6 separate regions of the Homo sapiens genome follow, and regions 1, 2, 4, 5 and 6 are each reported to be linked to region 3. The links are microRNA targets in miRTarBase. Many come from high-throughput screens and were not tested one by one. Region 3 holds a microRNA gene; each other region holds the end of a gene's coding sequence.
The links. The annotated mature microRNA hsa-miR-200b-3p reads UAAUACUGCCUGGUAAUGAUGA and lies in region 3 at 2,590-2,611, shown strand. An mRNA with a match to its seed (bases 2 to 7 or 8) in the 3' UTR can be bound and repressed. Matches are read on the target gene's strand: a 7mer-m8 pairs with bases 2 to 8, a 7mer-A1 pairs with bases 2 to 7 and ends in A, and an 8mer does both.

Region 1: the mRNA of PPP1R18 is a reported target of hsa-miR-200b-3p. Seed matches in the 3' UTR shown: 8mer at 2,732-2,739.
Region 2: miRTarBase lists CCNT2 as a target of hsa-miR-200b-3p. Seed matches in the 3' UTR shown: 7mer-m8 at 595-601.
Region 4: the mRNA of ACSL4 is a reported target of hsa-miR-200b-3p. Seed matches in the 3' UTR shown: 7mer-A1 at 2,133-2,139.
Region 5: the mRNA of BBX is a reported target of hsa-miR-200b-3p. Seed matches in the 3' UTR shown: 7mer-A1 at 1,269-1,275.
Region 6: the mRNA of DNAJB6 is a reported target of hsa-miR-200b-3p. The part of its 3' UTR that is shown has no 7-base or 8-base seed match.

Annotation. Positions count from the first base shown.
Region 1 is chr6:30,673,888-30,677,993 of GRCh38, forward strand. It overlaps PPP1R18 (protein phosphatase 1 regulatory subunit 18), which reads right to left. Exons shown (of 3, transcript NM_133471.4): 3 at 2,502-3,401. The coding sequence ends at 3,382. Among named protein-coding and RNA genes, the nearest start is that of DHX16, 2.9 kb to the left of the region's middle. RefSeq lists a silencer at 1,072-1,211.
Region 2 is chr2:134,954,285-134,958,284 of GRCh38, forward strand. CCNT2 (cyclin T2) reads left to right here. Exons shown (of 9, transcript NM_058241.3): 9 at 1-4,000. The coding sequence ends at 364. Among named protein-coding and RNA genes, the nearest start is that of CCNT2, 37 kb to the left of the region's middle.
Region 3 is chr1:1,164,571-1,168,676 of GRCh38, forward strand. MIR200B (microRNA 200b) reads left to right here and starts at 2,534; the gene lies at 2,534-2,628. MIR200BHG (MIR200B, MIR200A and MIR429 host gene) reads left to right here. Exons shown (of 2, transcript XR_007065348.1): 2 at 1-4,106. It overlaps MIR200A (microRNA 200a), which reads left to right and starts at 3,293; the gene lies at 3,293-3,382.
Region 4 is chrX:109,640,317-109,644,422 of GRCh38, forward strand. ACSL4 (acyl-CoA synthetase long chain family member 4) reads right to left here. Exons shown (of 16, transcript NM_001318510.2): 16 at 1,019-3,870. The coding sequence ends at 3,713. Among named protein-coding and RNA genes, the nearest start is that of KCNE5, 17 kb to the left of the region's middle.
Region 5 is chr3:107,805,112-107,809,197 of GRCh38, forward strand. It overlaps BBX (BBX high mobility group box domain containing), which reads left to right. Exons shown (of 18, transcript NM_001142568.3): 18 at 259-4,086. The coding sequence ends at 346. Among named protein-coding and RNA genes, the nearest start is that of LINC00635, 71 kb to the right of the region's middle.
Region 6 is chr7:157,415,562-157,419,667 of GRCh38, reverse strand. DNAJB6 (DnaJ heat shock protein family (Hsp40) member B6) reads right to left here. Exons shown (of 10, transcript NM_058246.4): 10 at 2,229-3,652. The coding sequence ends at 3,570. Among named protein-coding and RNA genes, the nearest start is that of DNAJB6, 81 kb to the right of the region's middle.

The DNA.
Region 1 (4,106 bases), not on the chromosome of region 3:
GCTTAACAGCTTGAGAAAATCACTGGTGGCTGCTTATTTAAAAGTAAGCAAGGCCAGGTGCAGTGGCTCTTGCTGTAATCCCAGCACTTTGGGAGGCTGAGGCAGGAGGATATCTTGAGACCAGGGGTTTGAGACCAGCCTGGGCAACAGGGTGAGACCCCACCATCTCTACAAAAAATTAGCCAGGTGTGGAGGTGTGCACCTGTAGTCCCAGCTACTCTGGAGACTGAGACAGGAGAATTTTTTTTTTTTTTTTTGGAGACAGAGTCTCGCTCTGTTGCCCAGACTGGAGTGCAATGGCACGATCTCGGCTCACTGCAACTTCCGCCTCCCAGGTTCAAGTGATTCTCCTGCCTCAGCCTCCTGAGTAGCTGGAATTACAAGTGTGACAAGCACATGCCATCACGCCCAGCTAGTTTTTGTATTTTTAATACAGATGGGGTTTTACCATGTTGGTCAGGCTGGTCTCAAACTCCTGACCTCATGATCCGCCCGTCTCGGCCTCCCAAAGTGCTGGGATTACAGGCGTGAGCCACCGCACTGGGCCTGAGACAGGAGAATCTCTTGAGCCCAGGAGCCAGAGGTTGCAGTGAGCCGAGGTCAGGCACTCCAACCTAGGCAACAGACCAAGACTATGCTCAAAAAAAAAAAACAAACAAAACAAAAAGCTGAATTTGTTACTCGATGCTCTGCTGTCTGATTTGTTTGATCCTGCATCATACTTTTGTGATTAATTGCAGTTACCAGGCACTACTGTTAGGAAATGAAACATTGTTCTTATTAATAGCCACAAGTGGATCTACATCACTGACTTTTTTTTTTTTTTTTTTGGAAAGGGAGTCTCGGAGTCTCACTCTGTCGCCCAGGCTGGAATGCAGTGGCGTGATCTTGGCTCACTGCAGCCTCCACCTCCTGGGTTCAAGCAATTCTCCTGCCTCAGCCTCCTGAGTAGGCGGGACTACAGGTGCGTGCCACCACGTCCAGCTAATTTTTTGTATTTTAGTAGAGACGGGGTTTCATCATGTTGCCCAGGCTGGTCTCAAACTCCTCAGATGAGGCAGTCCACCCGCCTTGGCATCCCAAAGTGTTAGGATTACAGGCATGAGCCACCACACCTGGCCTGACCTCTTGAATGCATTGTTTTCTGTTTCTGAGATGGACTGTGAGCACCCCTGGCACCTCGGAGCTTCCTAACTCTGTTTTCCTGGGTCACAACTGGAAACTTTTTAAGACCTTTACCTAACAGGCTACTAATATAATCATTCTGTTTCCTTCCCTACCCAGACCTTCTCTGAACTGGCTGAGTCTTTTGACACCTGGCTTGTTCTCTTGCTAGTAAATTGAAAACCTTTGGCGTATGCTTAAGTTCAATTTGTCTCATATATTTTGTTTTATAGTAAAGGTGTGGGGCCTCCTCTGACCAGTCTGAGAGGAGCAACTTGTAGTGGTAGAAGGACTATAACTATTCAACCATATCTTTGTTAGCCTGGAGAGCTAACAACAAACAAACAAATTTTCCTGATGAGTAAAATATTGATGTTCCACATTTGTATAAGATATTCTTTGAAATGGGAAAATTCCAAATATCAACTACATGGGCACCAAAGCCATGCACTATCAAGATGGTTTTTAAACCTTTTTTTTTTTTTTTGAGATGGAGTCTCACTCTGCTGCCCAGGCTGGAGTGTAATGGCGCAATCTCAGCTCACTGCAAGCTCCACCTCCCGGGTTCATGCCATTCTCCTGCCTCAGCCTCCCGAGTAGCTGGGACTACAGGTGCCCACCACTATGCCCCGCTAATTTTTTGTATTTTTAGTAGAGACGGGGTTTCACCGTGTTAGCCAGGATGGTCTCAATCTCCTGACCTTATGATCCGCCTGCCTCGGCCTCCCAAAGTGCTGGGATCACAGGCGTGAGCCACCGTGCCCGGCCTTTAGGCCTTTAACGATATAAAATCCATTGTCTATCAGAGGGGAACCTTTTCCAGGAAACTGACTCTTGTACATACTTACTTCATTTTGCAGCAATTTCAGATTTAGTATTCGTAGCCCCAGCTCTTTAAGTAAGTATCCCTGGATTAGCCACATGGGTTGTGTCATACACTACCTAGCTGCCTTCATGGCAGCAGGCTTCTGAATACTAGAACCCTTCAACTCAAAGTGTCCTCTGTAATATTTTAACCCTTTTCTTCTATTCATTCATTTGTTGTCATTCATTCTAGAAATAATTCCGTGTCTACTAGTTGACAGGTACAGGATATTGCAGTGAATCCAGCTGATGTAGTCAGCCCTCATGGCACTTCCAGTCTAGTGGACACTTCAACTGCCCTTTCTCATGTCACCTGCTTGTCCTGCGTGAAACCCACGTGCAGCTTCCCAGACCCCTTTTGACATGTCAGTGCCGAGTTCCTGGTTCATCCCCCATCATTTTCCTCTCCCCCAGCCACCAGAGCCTCCCCTCACATACCCTTTTTTTTTCCCAAAGAAGGAGAAGCAGACGAGTTGAAGAGAACTCCATTTTATTATGGAAAGTTAAAAAACAAACAAAACAAAACAGGCAATTGATAAAGGCGGCACAATGGGGAAGGAGAGGTGAGGTGTCTCCTTAGCCACCCGACACCATCTCAATTCAGTTCAATTGTGAACCACTAGGAGAAACAGAATTAAATAACTATCAAGGGGTACAGAGTTAAGAGTTCCAGCCTTCCCTCTTGGGGAAAACTAAGGCAAAGTAATACTGAGAAAAAGTGGAGGAAGCCACACCTTCAGGTCACTCCAATGAGGAGACTGGAGGGGACAGAGGAGAGAATTCCACGCAGACACAGCAAGTAAGCGTGGCTTGTAAACCTGGGACTTTGGCAGGTGGGGCTGGGAGCTGATGGAATTTGTAAACCAGGCTGTGGTCAAGGGAGGAGGCAGGAGCTGTAAACAAAGGGGCAGTGACCTAGGAAATGAAGGAGATGTGCCTATAAATGGAGTGGGGTCTGGGCCTCCCAGAGAGACGAGTGCTTAAATCCCGAGAGTCCCCACGGGATGGTGGGGAGGAAGGCTGTGGGGAGAGTGTACCCTGCCATGGGGGGCAGGTGCTCCATCTCCACCCTCCAGGGAGTTCTGTGCCCCTTCTCAGGACTTGGCGCTCACTCTTGGATGACCTAGGATGCACCAGCACGTTTAACCCCACCCACACCAGGGACTTTGGATTAGGGTAGAAATTGGGCAATTGGCTCTGCCCCCAGAAACAGGGTGGGGAAAGCAAGTTACAAGATGTTGGTTGCCCTTCCCTGCCAGGCTCATTATCAGGGTCTGTCTGCCCTGAATCTTCCGGGCTCCAGGATCTTCAGTTATAAGAAGGAGGGAGGTATATCCCTATGTTGGAAGATGGTCACCGCCGGCAGGACTCATCTGTGGGAGAGGGGGCAATAATGTTAGAGAATGAGTGAGAGCCTCTGCCTTCTGCCCACCCTTCCCCCCCACACAAATTGAAGGGCAGTTGGCATGCAGGAAGTCCTATAATATCTTCCATATCTAAAGCATGTTACCACCAGTAACCACATCCATCACTCATTTAGCTCGGACTCTGTGCCAGGCATCCTTATAACTGTTTAATCTCACCATAACTCCAGGAGAGATTAAGTAATATGATATCCAGCTGTGGCTCTTGGTGCTTCACAAAAAATTACTTAATCTTGGCCTGGAGCACCTGTAATCCAAGCAATTTGGGAGGCTGAGGCAGGAGGATCACTTGAGGTCAGGAGTTCAAGACCAGCCTGACCAACATGGGGAAACCCTGTCTCTACTAAAAATATAAAAACTAGCCAGGTGTGATGGTACACATCTGTAATCCCAGCTACTAGAGAGGCTGAGGCACAAGAATCGCTTGAATTTGGGAGGCAGAGGTTGCAGTGAGCCAAGGTTGTGCCACTGCATTCCAGTCCAGGCGACAGAGGGAGACGCTGTCTCAAAATAAATAAATAAATAAATAAATAAAATTACTTAATATTTTCTACAAGTCTAGGAGGTAGTTTTTGGTTTCTGTTTTTTTGAGACAGAATTTCACTCTGTCACCCAGGCTGGAGTGTAGTGGCGTCATCTCGGCTCACTGCAACC
Region 2 (4,000 bases), not on the chromosome of region 3:
TTCCTCTAGCTCCAGCTCTTCAAGGAAGAGGCTGCATGTCAATGATGCATCTCACAACCACCACTCCAAAATGAGCAAAAGTTCCAAAAGTTCAGGTAGTTCATCTAGTTCTTCCTCCTCTGTTAAGCAGTATATATCCTCTCACAACTCTGTTTTTAACCATCCCTTACCCCCTCCTCCCCCTGTCACATACCAGGTGGGCTACGGACATCTCAGCACCCTCGTGAAACTGGACAAGAAGCCAGTGGAGACCAACGGTCCTGATGCCAATCACGAGTACAGTACAAGCAGCCAGCATATGGACTACAAAGACACATTCGACATGCTGGACTCACTGTTAAGTGCCCAAGGAATGAACATGTAATAATTTGTTTAGGTCAATTTTTCCTTTACTTTTTTAATTTAAAAATTGTTAGAATGGAAAAATTCCTTCTGATCTAGCAGTGGTAACCCCTGCTGTTGCTGCCACTGCTTCAATATTTGTAAGTGCTGCTTTATTCTTCATTCTGAAAAGAAGAGATTATAGTAAACAAGTCTTTATCTCCACATATGATAGTGTTATAAATACTGTAAAAGCATGGAAGGTGCAAAACTCAGTATTTCTACAATTGCAGCTAAGAACATTAGGATGAATGGCTGGCTGCTTCTAGGAATATAAGATGCCTCAAGCATTCATTATTTATGATTTGAATACTGTAGCTATTTTTTGTTGCTTGGCTTTTGAATGAGTGTAAATTGTTTTCTTTTGTGTATTTATACTTGTATGTATGATTTGCATGTTTCAATGATAAAGGGATAAAACAGTATACTGACAACTGTTTACAAGAAAGTGGAGAAAAATGTACATACATTTTTGTATGTTTAGATATTACCGTAAATACTCAGGATTGGAGCTGCTTGTAAGTATAACAATATACAGAATAACTTTATTTTATCTTGTCAGAGTCCATCACTAATCTAAAACAAAGGTGGCACTTTTTTATGTTAACCTTAAACTCTAGGCCTTACTGGAAGCCACTGATAGGGGACACTTCACTACCAGATGTGTGCAGTGCAACAGATGGTCATATACACTGTGAGGCACTGAAATTTTGCCTTCAGAGGTTCTGACCAGATTGGCTGCTGAAATAGCCCCTAACTTTCTGAAGGCTTGAAGAGGAAAAAATAAAGTTTACATACTCTTGATGTGAAGTGCATTTAAATGTTTGTTGGCTTGTTGCAGTTCTATGAAACAGAGCTGTTAATAATGGTTATGTGGATTACTGTGATTTGAAAACTAAATTCACAATAACTTACCTAGTAGAGATTTAGTGAGTTGTTTCCTTTAAAGAATTTTACACTACATATTTTAATAGTAAACAGGGATCACTTTTCCTTTAGCATTCAGAATGACACCATATTCTTAAATATACTCCTTCCCTGAAGCGTGTTTGTGTGTGATGCCATATTTCTTTTTCAGGTAAATGTAGTCTTCCTTATAAAAATGAAATTAAACCTATGCTCTCAATTCTTTTATATTCTAACAATAAATAAAAAAGAAAAGATTACTGACTGTGCATTGTACCTGTATTTATAGTTTATGGTTATCAGGAAGCTCTGTAAGAAAGAAAAGGTCAGCCTCCCAGGCAAACCAGTAGTGGAGGTTTTACATTTGTTTGCACATCTCAGTATATTTCTGTTGAGGTAAAGTTTGCACAGTCATCTGACTTCTGATCAAGCATTAGATTTTAACTTGTTTAGATTTTGTCTTAAACACCAGTAATATGGCTCTTGTTTATCAGCTAATCTTGAATTTATTCTGTGGTAAATCTTTTGAGTTGTTGAGTATATTTGAGATTGATTGGATTCGACCTCTTGTTGAACTGAAAACTTAATTTTTTCTCTGTATTTTTGTTACAAAGCCACTGATACGTGCACAATTGTAATTAAGTATGTTGCAGTTGTAAATATTAGAGTTTAATCTCATGCTCTACCTTTATTTAGCAATTACCTAATTTGCCAGTAGCTTTATAATTTTTAAAGATAATTGTTCATTATTTTGTCAATGTTATTTGAACTTGGGGTACTTAGGAGCCTCTTTGTAGGGACTGTGCCTAGGTAGCATGTCCTAACATTTGTTCTGGTCTTGCATAACTTCAGTAATCTTTGTCATTATATGTAACTTTGTTGCTCTGTATGGCATAATATTGTATCCATAAACATGGTAATTTTGATACAGTTATACTTTTACAGTGGTACATAATCCAAGGACTAGTATAGAATTAAGCTGAGTGCAAGATGAGGGAGGGAAGGGCTTTCTTGGTAATTTAGATGTGAAACCTCTACAGAGCTATCATGTAAAAACTACATAAGGTGGTTGTGCTACTGTATAATTGGGGGTGATAATACCAGGAATTTTAATAAGATTTTGTAAAGAATATCCAGAAAAGTAGTGAACTTATTTTCAGTAGACATAGAAAACAATGTGAATATTTAAGGTCTGTGACTATAGTTAAACTTCACTAAGAATTTGCAGAATTGTTTTGAGATGTGTGAATAAAGGTAATTTTATTGAATCTTCATTGGTGCTAATGATGGACAGTTAAAAAGATAGCTAGTGTATATTGTTATGGGTCAGTACTTATTAGTACTTCCAAAATTGAATTTGAAATGCTATGTATTCACTTTTCACTCTGTAAATGTAATTCTTTACAATGACTTTATTTATTAAAGGGCAGCCAGTTGTCATTTTTACAGGATTGTGTGAGCTATTCAAACTCTTCAACCCCTGAACAGGGTATTAAGCTTCCAAAATAATGATGGGGATAAATATGGAAATCCTTTTTAAGTTGTATTTCCATTAAACAAAAACCCTTATAATTCATACTATCATGAATTTGCTTTATCCATCTCATTTGCATAACAGTTCATCTGTCTGGTCCCATTAGGCTCTACCAAAGAAAGACTCTGATGAGTGGACATTATTACTGTGACTCTTGTAAGTAGCCATAAATAAACCAAAATAGTATCAAATTTAGGTATGAAATTCCACATGTGCAAAGTACTGTTAAGGTGATAACATTTTTGATGAGATTTAAAAAAATATTTGAAATATTAAAAAGCATTATCTTTAAACATCCTATAAAAGAGTGAGTCATTTTTAAGTTGTGTTTTCCCTAGATCACTGATTTGTTACCTTTACACAGAAGCACATTGCAAAGAAAGGCTTTATTTCTACCTCTTCCATTCAGTTTTCCAATATTGAGCTGTGTCCCTCTGAATATTTGCCTTAGCTATTTCAAAATAGGTATTTTCAGAACCAAAGCAAAGGGTGGTTTGTTCACTGAAACATTCTTAGAGGCCTACTTAACGGGCGGCAGTATCCGGTAGTGGTAAAACCTCACAGTTTCCTAATTGCAGGTATGTAAATACCAAAAAAGTCCTGTTGTCAGCCCTAGGTTTATCTTTGAAAGCAGTTAAATGTGCACCTTGGTCTTCCTCCGTGTGTTCAGATTCCTTCTGGTTAAAGTTCTTATTCAGAGTCATCTAAAAGAAATTTCTAACATGATGTATGGTTTCTTGAATGTCATGAGTGGCTGCGTATATTGCTTTGTAGCAACAGATTGTATTAATAATTAATAGAATACCTAATTTTTTTGGCCTATCCTCTTTGAACTAGAAATGACTACTTGAGGGCTATTTCAGAGAACCAATATGAAATGTTTTTGTTAGTACAAAATACCATTGCCTTAAAAGGTTTCAAGCACATTTTCTTTTCTATTTGAGAACTTAAATTGCTGACTTGTATTCGTTAAGCAACCTTAGAAATAAACCACTGCTTATATCTGCATGAATATTATGCATTTCATGAGTACAGTTAGTTGATTAGATATTTCAGGGTTTTGCATTTTCTATAGACATGGGGACTTTTTTAACATGGTAACGTCTTAGGAAAACCATTCTCTCAAGGTATTACACCATTTCCAATTTTATCCAAATGAAAAGCATATCTGCTTAAATT
Region 3 (4,106 bases):
TCACAGCCGGCCTGCGAGGGCTGCAAATCCACGCCCGCCGTGTGGGTGAAATGGCGGCTTTGCCTCCCAGACGCGTAGCTCCGGCGACGCAGAGGGAAGAACCTGAGTGCCCGCCAGGCCGAGCTCCGCACCCCACCCCCCGGCAGCCTCTGACTCCCGGCTCGGCTCCCGCGGTCGGGGAGGGTTGGATTTCACACTTTGTTCTCGAGGCCGCACCATTGATTAAGCCCGTCGGGCAGGTTAACCAACAAGTTAGGTTTTCACGCCGGGATCACATTCCTCGCCGGGCGCTCCCACCCCACCCCAGCCTGTGCAGGTGGGACCCGGCCAGGCAGGCGGGCAGGGCGGCCAGGTGCGCCGAGGGGCGCCTCCACGGGGAGTGTGCTCCGCAGAGAACCCCTTGCTGGGGCGGCTCTGGGCCTCCTGACTCACTCCTGGATTTTCCCAAGCTGAGTCTGGCCCCGCGGTGATGATTAACCCAACACCTCAACCGGCACCGCCACGCTAGCTCCACTTCCCGGCGACGGTTGACAAGAAAGCGCCGCGTGGGGCTCTCGGAAAACAGGGAAGGTCCGTTTTCGCTTTTCATTTCTTGACCTGTGGCCACGGTAAGACTCGGCCGCCTGCCCACCCGACTCCTTGCCCCTCACCCCTGTGCCAGGCACAAGGCCCTGCGAAATCCTTGGTCCCCCAGCTGAGCCTGCCGGCCCAGGCCACCATCTCCCCACCCAGCCCTGGAGCCAGGGTCGGCCTCTCCTGCTAGCTGCTCGTTGGCTTTACAGCTTCTGCACTCAGGAGGCGCCTGGGAATCCTGCCCTGGAACTTAGGAAGGAGGCTTCTCCCACCTGCCTGCCACACGGGTCTGTCCCTGGGTCCCAGCCTCTGCCGTGTGCCCCTCAGCCTCCCGGGTGAGAACGCAATGACTGATGAGCCTGGGGTGGCCAGGCCAGCTCTGGCCCTGTGGGGTTCCTGAGAAGGCTGGCCCTGGGTGGCCAAGGGCCTGGGGACACTGGCCCCGGGCCCTGAACCTGGCAGTGGGAGGCCGGCCCGTCCGCCGGGTGGGCTGGGAACTGTGTTTGGCCCCAGCTGCAAGGGACGAGTGCCGGGCACCTGCTGCCCTCCCCACGTGACCTGGCAGCCAGGAATGGAGCTGAAATTCAACTCTGCTCTGAACGGGAAGTCTTAGTTTCCTTTAGCTCAGAAAACAGGTGAAATTGTGTTCCTGAAGCACTGATTTGATGGGATTTGATGGCATTGGTGGCGAAGGCCTGTGAGGTGATGGAAAGGGAAAGCCGGGTGCCCTGGAGCCTGACAGGCTGGGGCCAGGGCAGGGGACCTGGTGTGGGGTCTCCGGAGAGGGTCCAGGCGTGAGGGAAGCTGGGTCAGGACCTCGGAGACGTGGCCTTTGGAGGAGGAGACTGGAACCGGGTGGACCCGGCAGCAGGCGGGGGCGGGCGGACACGACCTTTGTTGTGGTCGGCGGGCAGACAGGGGAATCGGCACAGGGCCTGCGCCCCACCTACAGCCTCTGTGGGTGGAAGGTGCCAGAAAACTTGAAGAGTGGCTCTGGCCAGCTCTCTGGGCCCAGTTGGCACCAGGTGGTTGCAGAGAAAGGGTGGGAAGGAGGACAGGAAGGACGGCGTGTCCAGCGGGCGGGGAGCCTTGGTCTGGCCTGAGGGCTGAACCTCCCTCGGGTCCTGAGTGTGCCTGGAGTAGAAGCCTAGGGTCTCTGGGCTCCAGGCAGGGCCCTGAGCAAGGAGGGGCCACAGGGCTGCCCACTTCCTCCTGCCCCCCTGCAGAGGCGGCTCAGCCCTCGCGGCGTCTGAGGCTTGACTGCCTGTGTCTGTGTTTGTGGCCGGTCTGCCTCTGTGCCTGGGTCAGACCCCAGACCAGCAGACACACAAACCGCAGGGACGGCTGGGCAGGGTCAGGAGCCTGCCCCGCCCGCACCCCCACCCACACCCCCACCCCCACCCCCGCCTGCACCCCCTGCCCTCAGACGCTGTGCAGTGAGCGGGGCAGCATGGGAGAGGGGTCTCCAGGTGGCGGGGACCGTTCTGTCTCGAGAGCCTCGCAGACACCGGGCCTTTGAGAAGAGAAGGGGCTGGGCAGGGAAGCAGCTCCTGGAACACCATCCTGGAGACAGAGGCCCTTGTCCCCTGCCTCAGACAAGGCAGCACGTGGGGCCCGGGGGGCTGGGGCTGCTGTCCAGGCCTTCCTATGGGACCACCCAGAGGGAAGGTCCCCCGCAGAGGGGTGGGGGCAGAGGGCCGAGCGGGGCGGGCAGAGGGCCCGTGTCAGCCCCACTCCGACCTAGTCCTCGGCCGTCTGGCCAGGACACTTCGGCCCCCCAGGTGCCCACCCCAGGACCCAAAGCTGGTGGCTGCTGGACTCGGCAGGGCTGGCGGGTGGGGCTCACCCGGGCCCCTGCCCTCCGGCGATGCTGTCCTCAGTGCCCCAGGAGGACGAGGCCCCCCAGCTACTGAGCTTCCCAGCGAGTCCCATGCAACCCTCAGCCGGGCGGCCCCCGGACCCAGCTCGGGCAGCCGTGGCCATCTTACTGGGCAGCATTGGATGGAGTCAGGTCTCTAATACTGCCTGGTAATGATGACGGCGGAGCCCTGCACGCAGCGACCGGCCGACCCCGTCCCGGCCCCCAGGGCCTCCCGCCGAGCCCCACACTCCCCTCCCACACAGCCCGCTCACCGGACCCCACCCCGTCCGGGCCAGATGGCTCTGGGGAGAGTGACGGGGGGACGTGACCTTCGGAAGGGGGCTGGGGCGCCCCCCACCAGCATCTCAGAGACCCCGGAATGCAAGGCCTCCTGCAGCTGCACCCAGGGCGCCCCACAGTGATCTGGGGATTAGGACGCTCAGGTGTCCGGGCCCTGCCCACAGCGCCTGGGCGGGAGCTGCTGTCACACCCAGCAGGTGCGGGCCGAGCAGGACCCAACAGAGGGCTCAGGAGGGCAAGGCCCAACCGGGAGCCACGTGGAACCCAGAGGAAGCCGCCCCACCCAGCTTGGCCACAGCCATCTTCCCTCCTGCCGGACAGGGTGGGCCGGCCACCGAGCAGACCAGTGCCCCCGCCTTGGTCCCGGGTCAGCAGCCCCAGGGTCCCCTTGCCCTGGAGGAAGCAGGGAGGGTGGGCCTGTGTGCAGTCTCAGGGCCCCCAAGCCCCTCTCCGCCAGCCCTGTCCGGTCCCGGCACCACCCCTGGCTGCTCACCGCTCCGGTTCTTCCCTGGGCTTCCACAGCAGCCCCTGCCTGCCTGGCGGGACCCCACGTCCCTCCCGGGCCCCTGTGAGCATCTTACCGGACAGTGCTGGATTTCCCAGCTTGACTCTAACACTGTCTGGTAACGATGTTCAAAGGTGACCCGCCGCTCGCCGGGGACACCACCGAGGCACATCCGGAGCTCCTACTCCAGGGATGGGCTGGGGCGGAGGGCCGAGCGGGGCCAGCAGACGGGTGAGGGCGGAGGGCCGAGCGGGGCCAGCAGACGGGTGAGGGCGGAGGGCCGAGCGGGGCCAGCAGACGGGTGAGGGCGGAGGGCTGAGCGGGCGGCAGAGGGCCTGTGTCAGCTCCGAAGTCCAGCCCCCAGGGGAGGGGCCGGCCTCTGCCGGGGGTGCCCCCGGGGTCACTCACGCCCAGGCTGGGTCTGACACCTTGAGGACCCCTTGGTGCCTCCACAGGTGGCCTGGAGGGCATCCTGCTCCCCCTCCCGGAGCCGCTGTGCCTCCCCCACCCAACCTCCCAGGCTGGGTTTTAGGGTGACCTGGCTCCAGGAAAGGCCATAGGGCTGGGATGCCAGGGCTGGAGAGGGAAGAGCAACAGTGGCCTCTCTCACGTGGTCCGGGCTCCGTGGAGGGTCTGCTGGGGGCGCAGGAAGGACAAGGTGGGTTCAGATTCCCGAGCCCCACCATGCAGGGGAGCGGGGACGCTCTGCGCTTGCCCTCTGAGGGACAAGGGGTCTCATTCCTTCCCCCAGTCAACAAGAACAGGAACTTTGTCCAAAACCCACCAGGCCAGGATGACCCATTGTTTCATCTTTTCCATCTGCAACCAGGGCGCCTGGGACCGCACCCCCACACAAGGCCCCAGCCT
Region 4 (4,106 bases), not on the chromosome of region 3:
AAAAAAAAAAAAAAAAAAGAGTCACAGACTCCTTATACCTAGTAGAATCCTCAACTTCTTGTGATCCATAGCCTCATAGCCCTATAGGAAACTCAGAACCTAGGGCATCATTTAAGAAAATAGAGCTTGGAACAGTAATATCACAATACTAAAGCTAGACATGATGGACCATAAGGACTATCATGTTCCCTATTTCTTTTGTCATTTGTCTTTCCCTTTTTGCAAAAGGCATCATTTTTGAATTTTTGTTTGTTTGTTTGTTTGTTTTTTAATGGGAAGAAGAAACTAAGGCTAAGGCTAAGGTTATGAGATTGGCCCATGGTTACAAAGCTAGTGTCAATAAGCCCAGGTCTCCTGACCTCTAGATCTAGAACTTTTTTCACAAAATCTTCAGGGGCAGTCAGTTCTTTAAGGCCCTGAGTATGCTAGTCAATACTTTAAACAACCTGACTGATGAATAGTGTCTAGGTACAATAATAATTATGATAATAATAGCTAACATAAGCTATTGTTCTAAACACTTTACATTTTAACTCTCACAACAATCCTATTAGGCAGATCCTATTATCCATCAACCCAATTTTTCCAGATGAAGAAATGCAGCTCCAAAATGTTAATTAATTTGCTGAAGGTTACACAACTACAGTGGCAAAGCCAGGAAATAGAGCTCTTAATGCCATTTTATACACACCCTCATATAACTCAAATTAATTTCTCTCTAAAATATTAATTAGCCTAAAAGTAGCAGTTATAATTTGGTAGCGCCCACTGATAATCCATGTTTTGTCCCAAAGTATCAGTGTTACAAAGGGGTTTTACTCTATTGACTGGACCAAAGTAACAGTTTGGGATTCAAATACTCTGAACTAATGGATGGGACTATACAAGCCGGTTTAACTGCTTAATGCAATTCCATAAACCTGGAGATGAGTACTTTAAAAATATGTGTTTAAAAGTTTGGTTAATAATCTTCAAACTTGGAGATTTTATCTCAATGCATAATGAAGTACAAATTGGCTTGATAACATGGGTGGATTTATTTCTTAAGATTTGAGTGCAAACTTAAAAACAAGAACAAACAAAGCTTTTCATCAAGAATAAACACAAAATCTAAACAATTCTGCAATCATGCATTTTAACAGAAAGTACAAATATGAATACATTATAATTTGTAACTGCATTTAAAAATTAAAATATTTCTCTCCAAATCCAAAACACCACACAATCTTTATCTGTTCTCATCTTGTTACCTTAGAAACATTTGTCATATGCTATCAGGAAAATATAGGCAAGACTTACTAATCAGTTATTCATGATCAAAGAAACATGATTCTCCTTAACTGTGACTTTTTGAATCATTTATCTGTATTTCTGAAATATCACACAATTATACCTCTACTCTAGAGAAAAAAAGAATAAATACAAATATCAAGGAGGCAGGAACATTCATGGAATTAAAGCAAAAGTCACAAGTGTTTGACTTAGAAATGTACATATTGTAGTAAATTTTTAAAGTACAACTTTAGTTGATGGCTGATGTGTATGTAATAACTGTGAGCAATTTAAACAGGTATAAAAATGTGAGATCAAAATCTTTAGGCTTAAATACTTGAAAAGTCACTATGGATATGGAAAGATTTGTTTACATAAACATGTATATTTTTAGATGGAAAATCAAGGGGTAGTGGCATCTCCCTGGTCCCTTAACAATATTTGGATTTTTGCAAAGAATTAGCAGCACCCAACCTTAAGTGTTAATTATGTGTTTCTAAAGGACCTATAACAGATCAGTTGGCAGTGTTCTAGCTTTTGGGAGTTGGGGGCAGATTGGGGGTGCAAATATCTGAGATAAGATAGTACATGCACTCACACATTTAAAATCACCATTCTAAATGGGAAAAAAAATCACATATTGGAAAAGTCTAAGAAACTCATTCTTAAGGGATAAACAGCAGGGCAGGAATAAAAGCTGAACAGTAGTCTACTTGATAATAATGGTATTTCACTCTTCAAAGGCAAGTTGGGAAGAATGAGAATACTCACATACACATAACTTCAGGGAAAACTTGCCTAAAATTTTACCTTGCAAAACGCTGAACAGAAATCTTTACAAAAACCTTCATTCTTGTTTATAATACTTGATTTTTCCCTTATTACCACCATATACATAACATTTAAGTATTTTCTTCATAAATATTTTAGAGCAAAAAGAATGTATTTTGTTGCAATGGTGGCCCACATCTGTACAAAACAACATAAGCAACACACACACACACATATATATATGCATATATATAAAAAATGATTAAGAAAAAGTGCAAAGAATAACAGTATTAAGATTTTTTGCATTTTACAGTAACTATGGTTCAAGTGTGAATATTTATCAGGGATATATAATCCCAGGTTTTAATTAAAGATTCAAAAAGAAACCACACTCCCAAGTTACTGCACAAACATCAGTCCCTTATCAAGTAACTCTGCCCTTCTCCCAAATCTAGTATTTCCAGTTTCTAAGCTCTTCCCAAACAGGAAAAAATGATAACAGTGTTTTCTTCCCTTTAACTTCCCAAAACTCATCCAAGTTAATCACCTGTAAGTTCAAGCAAGATATTGGGGAAGTCATTCATTATAACCCGCTTTGCTAAAATTAAAGCAAAATGAAAGGCTTTCTGAAATGCAAACTACTGATCAAGAATAAAATCAGCAACAGCAAACAGACCTTAAATTACAAATGTAATTTAATACATGTACATTTTAAAATCAATCCCTGTTATCAAAGATAAATTCAGAGTTTAAATCTCTTTCCCAGGTTCAGTGCTGTGCAAGGGTTCTAATTCCAAATACTTATGATTTTATCACCTTTTCTAAGAGAAAATGTTTGCCTGTTAACTTTTTACCTTCCTTGCTCTTGGTCTCAGCTTTTCAGTTTGAATAAACACAGAAAGGCAATTTTCAGCATTTCAAAAAATGTACTTTCCTCTTAGTCATTCAAATAATTACAGTTATTTTTAGATCTCAAAGTTTCAAAAAAAGCAGCTCAATTTCCCTTTAAATATATTACTAGATATTTTTTGGTGTTGTATATGTTGTTCTATTCTTATTTTAGGCACTGTAATTATTCACAACATTACAATGACTCTATATCTAACCTATGCAACAATTATAATCTTAATACCTTCTAAGGTATTATTTGATTTTGTGTATTATATTACTATTGAATTTTTCCTTCAAGATAAATGGTTGGAAGAGAATTTTAAAGCCCTGCAGCACTTTTGCTTTGAGTAGTGTTAATACATATTTTCTGTCATGCTTAATATTTAAACTTCTGAAATAGGAAGACAAGAGGCATTGGAAGCTGCAAATTTCCTCAAACTACATTCTACTCCAACTCCAATTTATTTTGTTCAACATTAAATATTTTTCTTTACAAAAACAAGTATATCTTAGGCTAATTTTTAAAAACAGAATTTCTGCTCTATAATAACACAGCTAAAGGGAAATAACTTTTCAATTTCAGCTGCACTAGAACTATGCAAAACTAAGTTAAAGTAAACCGGACAACAATTTTAATAACTTTTGGTTTTGTTTTCTTTTTACTCTATCTTTAGAATGATATACCTTACATTCTAACAGTTCAACAAAGGCTTAAAATTCTAGAGGTTGAAAACCACCAGGCTACCTCCTGCACAACTGTCAATAAGACAACAACATTTTATTTGCCCCCATACATTCGTTCAATGTCTTTGAGGTAATGGTTCCTCAGCTCCTTCCTTTTCAGTTTGAAAGCATCAGTTACCAAACCAGTTTCAGGGGTCCATGGCTCTGGGCTTAATCGAACCTTGATTGGAATTTCAAATCGCTCCAATTTCACTGAAATTAGAAGTGAAAGATGGGAGAAAAGGAGAGGGGGGGAAAGAGACGAGAAAGGAGTGGGGACGGGGAAAGAAGGGGAAGGAGAAGCAATTAATAAAATATGAGTTTTTCAGGATTTACCTAGATGATTCGGGTGTTGAATCACCAATCACCACAAACTTATTTAATGGTATACTAGATAGTTTATTAATGCTACCTCTACCTTACAATTTCATTTTATATTTCTCAAAGTA
Region 5 (4,086 bases), not on the chromosome of region 3:
CTGTTGAGTTGTATGAGGGGAATTCAGATATAAAATCTTAGGAAGGGAGACAGAATGGGAAGGAGGAAGGGGAAAAAAAGGATAAGGAAGGGGACAGAAGAGAAAAAACTCTAAAGCAAAAACAGTTTTCATTAAATGATGTAAGTAACAGCAGTAACTGTTAAACAAGATATTGGAACACACTTGTTATTCATCGTCCTCTCCTGTCTCTAATAACATATGCTGAATAAGTGACTTTTTCTTCCTTTTATTTTACAGAGGTCAGAGGTCAACTCCGCTCACCCATGATGGACAGCCAAAAGAAATGCCGCAGGCTCCTGTACTTATTTCCTGCGCTGACCAGTGAAGCGCCCTTTCATTGTAAAACATTGTGCTTTACCTACTACCCTAGCCTTGTCTTTACCGAGGGATGCTAGTGAGTCCAAGTGGTGGAAAATATAGACTGCAAACAAGTGCTTGTTGCCCCACACGGCCCAGATTCACTTGAAGCAGAAGTTAGCATCCTGGGCCAGTTTGTTCTCTCAGAACCCAGAATCTTTGAGGGTAAGGTTATCTGTCTGATACTGAGCAGAAACAGAATGATCCTGGAGCTTTGCTTTCTATTGAAGGCTTTTGACGGTAATAGGTGGTAACTTGGTAAAAGGCTGCCTTTACTGTAGCTCACCCAGCATCTCTTTTACCAACCAGAGAGTGTGAAACTAGTTTCATATATTACCTAGTTATTCTTTCAAAACAAAACAAAAAAAAAACAAAAACTGACGCACTGCACTAGTTATTATTAGATATTCTTAGTCTTTTTTGTACATGGAGATTTAAGTTTAAGATGGTTTATATAATAGGTTATACCTACATTTATATTGTAGAATAAATATTAAAAAGCCTGTTCCAGAGACTCCCAAGCAGCCTGGGCAGGCAGATGTACCATTGTTAGTGGTGTATGCTCGGCCTCGTGGTCCATATATTCTGCACTTTTATATTTGCCACCAGAATGGTAGTTTGCTGGCAAAAAAAAAAAAAAAAGAGAGAGAGAAAAAATTACAACTCTTACAATCTGAATTTTTTTCTTAGCCTTGAGTGACCAAGAAGAATTTGCTTGAGGCAAATTGTGGCAAATATTTTCCCAGACAGGGGAAGAGTCCTGCAGATTACAGATTACTGGTGTTTTCATGCCTTGAGGATTCTTTTATTTTTACATAGGGGTCTAAGTGACCAATGGATTGTTCATACAAACAAAAAAAAAGACAAAAATATTATTCAGAAGTGACCTTAGTATTACTTCACTATTCTAAACACATTGAAGACACTCACTTCATGTGGACTTGGAGCTACAGACCTTTTACATCCATCACAGATTGGCTGGACGGGTTGCAATTGCTATGCACAGCCTGATTGGCACTGCAGGTTTTTAGAGCCATTTTGAGTTTGTGTTGTTTAGGAGGTACTGAGTCAATGATGAGGGAGGTATGCCTGACCAGAGTGGGACTCTCAGTCATAGATCCACCTGCAAGTCTCTGTTTCCTTTTTGTGTTTTGTTGCTTTTGAACATAAAACCAACCATACATAAGCAGCGCCAAGTGGATTAACTGGCTTAGAACATTCAACATATTGACTTAACCACCTGACATTCACAGTGTCTTGTTTCCTAGCAACAGATGCAAAGTGATAAATCAAAATTAGTCTGAGGCTACAGATTTTACAGGGTATTTGTTCTATAGCACAAAGTATTTCCCCACTCTTGCGTCACAGCACAAACTACCAAATTTTAATTATTGGATTCCAGCAATAATTTTTAATGGTTTTCAAACTGGCGGAATTTTGACAGTGCTAGTTCGAGTTTGAAGCTTTTGAATTAGATCTCTAAATGGTGACAGTTTACATGGTTTTATCTAGCTTTCTTATTTATACTTGACTGAATTGTAATGATTTTTTTTCTAATTGTAATTTGACGTAATAGCCATACAAAAAATGACTCTATTCATACTAGGTTTAGCTTCTCATGGTTGTAGATATTACTTCAGTTCCGGTGCTGGAAAATATGTACAACATACTAACAGGATTGAAAAAAAAATAGAGGTTTTTCTTCTTGTTTTTTTTTCCAAAGCAGGTAAAGAGGGTAGCAAAGCATCGGAATGATGTGCTCAAAAATGCATATTCCTGGTGGGGATGGAGGAAGAAGGCATTAGTAAAAGGTTAATCAAACGTTACAACTTAACCCCATTCATGTAGGAATAAATCAAGTGAGCAGTTCCAGACTTTTGCATAATATTTTTACTATGATGCTGTTTTATTAATATTTTCTAAATTTCAAAACAAAAAGTGAATGTTTGAAATTGCTGGGTCCCGATGTTGGTGGCTGTTGGAGTTTTGGACCACTCGCTAGCAGTGATTTGAAGATTATAATTAGCTAAAATCCAAAACAAAAAACCAACAACAAAAATTGTATGGTGCGGAACATGCACCTTGACAATGGTACTAACTTGTTATTCTATAGAACACGTTAGAATAGATCTATTTTTGCCAGAGCACCCTCCTTCAGTCCTCCGATTACATTTCACTAGAGTTCCTTACGAGATTGCTGTATATTCCTGGGACCTTTTTTAAAAAAAAAAAAAGCAAAACAAAAGATTACTTTTTTTCTATGTGATTAATATCTTACTTGATCTGCTTTTCCTAAACCTCAGTGGCTTTTCCCTTAGGCAGGGTTGGGGGTGGGAGGGCAACTTACTGGAGATGACTGTTTTCAGATACTTTAAAACAAACCTTTTTGTAGAAATGCTTAATTTTTAAGCGGTTAGGCACTGAGAGTAGCAGAAATCCTGCAAAGCTTTATAGTTCCTTAGACTCACCTTGTCGATTCTCTGAGTAAAGTCTTGATTTCAATAATTGTGCTTCTCATGCCCTGAAACTGCTGGAGAGGAGTGTTGTTATTTTCAGGTAACAACATTCGTTAGCACAAATATTTCAGACCAATATTAGTGCTCTCCACCCCACCTTTTGTTATCATTTTCATTTCATTTCTCTCATTCTTTTTTATTTTGGAAAATCATATTGCTATAGTGTGTACTTTAATCTGCCAGCAGATACCATCTACACTAACATTTGTCCCACAGCATCCTCAAGAGAAAAAGTTGTTGCACCTTATATATATCTCAAGCAAACCAAAATATGATGCTCTTCTGCTTTGTTTTATTCTAAATTGTTGTATCATATCTTTCTGAAACCATTCTGAATTTAGTTGAAATTATCAATATTTATGCTTTTAACCTTAATTTCTGGATTCAAGCCTGTATATAAATCTTTTGAAAAAAAATTGTCCTAGCCCTTCTCTGCGATGCTGGAAGTAGAAGATTGCGTCTCAGATGGAGACGCAGTACTGTTCCAGTTTTCTTTAGCCTTTTATTTATTTAGTTATTCTGGGTATTTCCTATGTAATTTTGAAGTGTGTAGAGTATATTATAGTAACTGAAGCTGCAGCTGTAAGAAGCTGAGTGAAAGAAAAAATACTGTAAGACATCCTTAAAGTTTTTATTTGTTTGGGTACTGTATATGAGATCAGGAAAAAGAAAAATGTCCCACAGCCACATTGGAAATACAGGTTCTTGTCCCCAAATTAGGTTAGTTCCCAGATTTTAGATCAAAACTGTTAATTCATTAAAACCCCTTTTAAAAGGTAAATTCTACTGTTGTAATTCCGATAGTCTTTTTCCCACAAATATCAGAAATATATTTATTTAATTCTGTCAGATGAGCTTTCTACCGATGCCATGTCCCAAAGCCATGTTAAAATAATTCCCACGTTATCATTGTGATTCTACTTCCTGCCACTAAAATTGCTGGAGAAACAAAATAATGATGGAACACTATGAACAAAAAGGAGCATCTGAACTGGTCTGGTTATTTAGAATCCAATGTGTTCAAATCCTTTTGTTTTCTTATTAAGTCAGATGCTACTGTAAGTCAGATAAAATTTTGTTTGCACTCTGCAGTCTTTGGCTCAATGTATGGAAATGTTTGCACCTATGTAAAGTCACAAGCTAATTACAAATTGCTACAGAACAGGAGTAAGCTGAAAACTGAATGCCATGT
Region 6 (4,106 bases), not on the chromosome of region 3:
GGCATGGGGGAATTACTAATTTTCTGAGGTGTGATAACGGTGCCACGGCTCTCCCGCCTAGGTGACGGAGTGAGACTCCATTGCAAAAAAACAAACAAACAAAAACAAAACAAAATGTGTTAAACACAGGTGTGGTTATTCACGTCATGGTCCCACTTTTCCAGGCCTATGAACAAAAGAGCAGAGAGCTCTCCCTGGTGACGGCGCCACGTCCTGGTTCTGTCTCCAGCTGTGCAACCCACATGAGGGAAGGCACGTGGGACCCCCAGGTTAGGGTTAGGGTGTGAACGTTTCAGGATGTTTAAATGTATTTACTTACAGAAAGTGGGTTCTGCAGCCCTTTATGCCCCTGACAAAAGTGAATGGCGTACAGGGTGGCCCTGGGATTGGCAGTGGGGTGGCCAGGAAGCCCCACTGTGGTCCTGACACCCCCAGGACTCCCCACCCCAGTCCCACAACTGCAGTCCCTGCCACACCGTCCACAGCCCCCCTGCCTCCCACCCACCAGCACCTCACTGCCTTCCCCACCCCCCGCAGGGCCCCCCAGTGCTTGGGACGTCACAAAGGTGACGACGACAGGTGCCGCGCTCCCCCTTGCCATCATCTCAGCAGCTGCCGAGCACACCCAGGGGCCGGGCTCCCTCTCCACCCCCTCAGCAGACGCTGGCATAAGCAGCCGCGGGCTCTATCTGCAGCATCCACCCCCTCAGCAGACGCTGGCATAAGCAGCCGCGGGCTCTATCTGCAGCACAGAGCTCCTGGACCCGCCCTAGGGGGATGGGGCGCTGGGCGCAGGGGTCGGGTAGACCCCAATACCCCTCCTCACCTGAGAAGCAGATGCCTACCTGCTGGCCATGCACCTGCCGGGCCCCATGGACACCAGCTCCCTTCTCCTCCTGGGGTCGGGGTCTCTCCCTCTCAGCGAAGGGAGGACCCACCTGTGACATGAGCTGACTCGGTAGCCAGGCCGTGTGAAGACGGGGCTCTGGCCCCTTTGCCAAGAGCCTGTCTTGTGTGTGGCCTGGCTTGTCTGGAAGGCGCTCGCGGCTCTGTCCACGCTCCCTAGCTGTGCCCCTGCTGAGGCAGCCCGGCCACGCTCCTGGGACGGCCTGAGGGTCAAGTGGGCAGGGTTGAGGGCACAACAGTCACCTCTAAACCTGTCGAACCACCTGCCTCCCTCGCCACAATCTCAGCAGCAGATTCTGGGATCTGAGCAGTTGAGAAGGACTAATCTTGTTTTAAAAACACCCCCGACCCCGGCCCGCAAGGCGACTTACTGCACCGCCTTCCCCTGTCACCAGGAAGGCCGGACGCCAGGATGTCAGCACTGAGCGCGTGTCTGGCCCAGTCTTGGTCGCCAGCAGAGCCAGGGTGAGTCGACGAGGTTTTCCTCTCGGGACCCTCAATGCCTCCTGTGAAGGCTGCGGGAGTTTCCACCTCATCTGTGCGTTGGGGTGTTACTTTTTTGTTGTTGTTGTTGTTTTGAGATAGAGTCTCGCTCTCTCTAGAGTGCCGTGACGCAATCTGGACTCATTGAAAGCTCTGCCTCCCGGGTTCACGCCATTCTCCTGCCTCAGCCTCCCAAGGAGCTGGGACTACAGGCACCCGCCACCACGCCCGGCTAATTTTTTGTATTTTTTAGTAGAGACGGGGTTTCACCGTGTTAGCCAGGATGGTCTGGATCTCCTGACCTCGTGATCCACCCGCCTCGGCCTCCCAAAGTGCTGGGATTACAGGCGTGAGCCACCGTGCCCGGCCTTTTTTTTTTGAGACGGAGTCTCGTTCTGTCTCCCGGCTAGAGTGCAGTGGTGCGATCTTGGCTCACTGCAAGCTCCGCCTCCCTCGTTCAAGAAATTCTCGTGCCTCAGCCTCCCGAATAGCTGGGATTGTAGGCGTGTGCCACCACACCCGGCTAATTTTTTGTATTTTTAGTAGAGATGGGGTTTCACCATGTTGGCCAGGCTAGTCTTGAACTCCTGATCTCAGGTGATCTGCCCACCTTGGCCTCCCACAGTGCTGGGATTACAGGCGTGAGCCACTTTGCCCAGCCGGGGGTGTTAGCTTTAAAGTCATGTTTTCGCCTTACAGTGACGCATTTCGGAAGCAAGGCTTCTGCCTGCAAAACACCACTTTCATCCTTTGTAATCGTAATGTTGAAGAATTGCTTTTATTTCTAGTCAGTCTTAACGGTGCAACTTACTGGCGCTTACAAAGGACAGCAGGCGAGCTGTATTCAATATGCTTATGTTTTATTTATGTAGGTGGCATTTAAAATACATGATGTGTTTAGGGTTACATTGTCCACAGAAAGCATCAAATACCACTCCTCTCCCCGCCAAAACCAAATAAACAAAGCCAACTCTTTGGCAACAGTTGTGTTAAATAAAATCCCAGGTCACACTTGTTTCTGGCTCCCAAGCCTGGGTCACTGCTACATGGATTGCGCCAAAAAATTCCCAGCTTCAACACTGCTAGATTAAAATTGCTGGCATTTTTAAATCACAGCAAAGCTTTTCACAATGCCCTCAAGTCCAAGAGGACAAAGGAGAAAGCAACATGAACGGCAGATCCTCATGTGAAAGGGAAGGAAAGTCACTGGGAGGGAGCATGCAGGGAAGAAGTCAAGGCAGCCCTGGAATTCTACTCCGTGCTCAATAAAAACAAAACGTGAAGAAGCAATACATCATGCAAACGAAATAATGACCGGAAGTGGGCGCATCTAGTTAGAATGAAGTGACTTTCGTAAGGAGTCAATGTTCGCGAACTGAAACATGAGTTCAACCTCCTTGTGCCGTCTCTGGGTGTTTTGCGCGTGTGTAAATACCGGCCCGTTTTCCCCAGCATGGCCCTAACCCATGGACACTAGGGAGAGTGCCACTGAGCAAAAATTTTTTGCTAAAAATAATTAGCAAAAATCCAAGAAAAAAATATGGAATCTAGCAAAACCTACACCATATTTGAAGTTGAATTTGCACTACCTGCAAAGGATGAAAATTAAAAGAGTAAACAGAAGGAATGATTTTACATCTGATGTGATTCACGACAGCCTTCTATTCGTGTGGCCGGATTGCTCTGAGGAAAAGGTGCCCTGACGGGCAGGATTCAATGTGTCACTTGCAATATTCTCTAAGTTACACTCTACTGAATTACCTTCTAATTCCAAACACTACGCCGCCACAGAAAGCCTCATTTCATGAATGTTACTCAGTTAGCCATCTGCGCCCTCCTGTACTTCTAAAGCCAGAAATATTCCAGCAGCATGCGGAGTGGTTGAGTAGCCGAAAAGAATGAAGAGGATCCGGAAGCACTAGAGGAAAATGCAGCAGATTGAGAGCTGGAGAGAAGCAGAGAGTCGCGGCCAAGTCCCAAACGTCTGTCCCCGCCACCCGTGCCGTCAGCCCCGTCTCCTGACCCTGCTCTGACTGATCCGTGATCGCATAATCCTGCCGAGCGAGTGTGGCCTCGAGACAGTCCTGACCGACGCTGCTACCTAGCGCGTGTGCACGACCGCATGCCGAGCACGGTGGAGCGCCAGCGTCTGGGGGTGCACCGCGTGCCTCAAGTCCGGTCTAGTGATTGCCTTTGGTCGACTTCTTCTTCTTCGACTCCTCTCTCTGCTTCTGCTTCTTCCTCTTGCCACCTTCTTTCAATCCTAAGGAAACACGGCTTGTAAAACACTGTACGGAACAGCACTGCTTCCCCAGCAAGAGCCAAACATGTTTTCTAAATATCTCCCCATGTTAAGAACAAAAAGCAACAAAATGAAGTCATCTATCTTGGCCACAGCTAAACCTCAAAACGGGCGCTTTCCAAGGTGCACGTTGAGAACTGCTCACACTACCCAGAGAGCTTCACCACCCTGCAGAGAAGTGAGGACTCCCACCTACCCGAGTTCCGCCCAGCGGCAGAGCTAAAAGCCCACCCTGGGACTACCCCAGTTCTGCCCAGCGGCAGAGCTAGAAGCCCACCCTGGGCACGGCTGCACCTCAGTCCTGGAACCCCACCCTGGGACCTACCCCAGTTCCGCCCAGCGGCAGAGCTAGAAGCCCACCCTGGACACGGCTGCACCTCAGTCCCGGAACCCCACCCTGGGCTCTCCTTCAGAA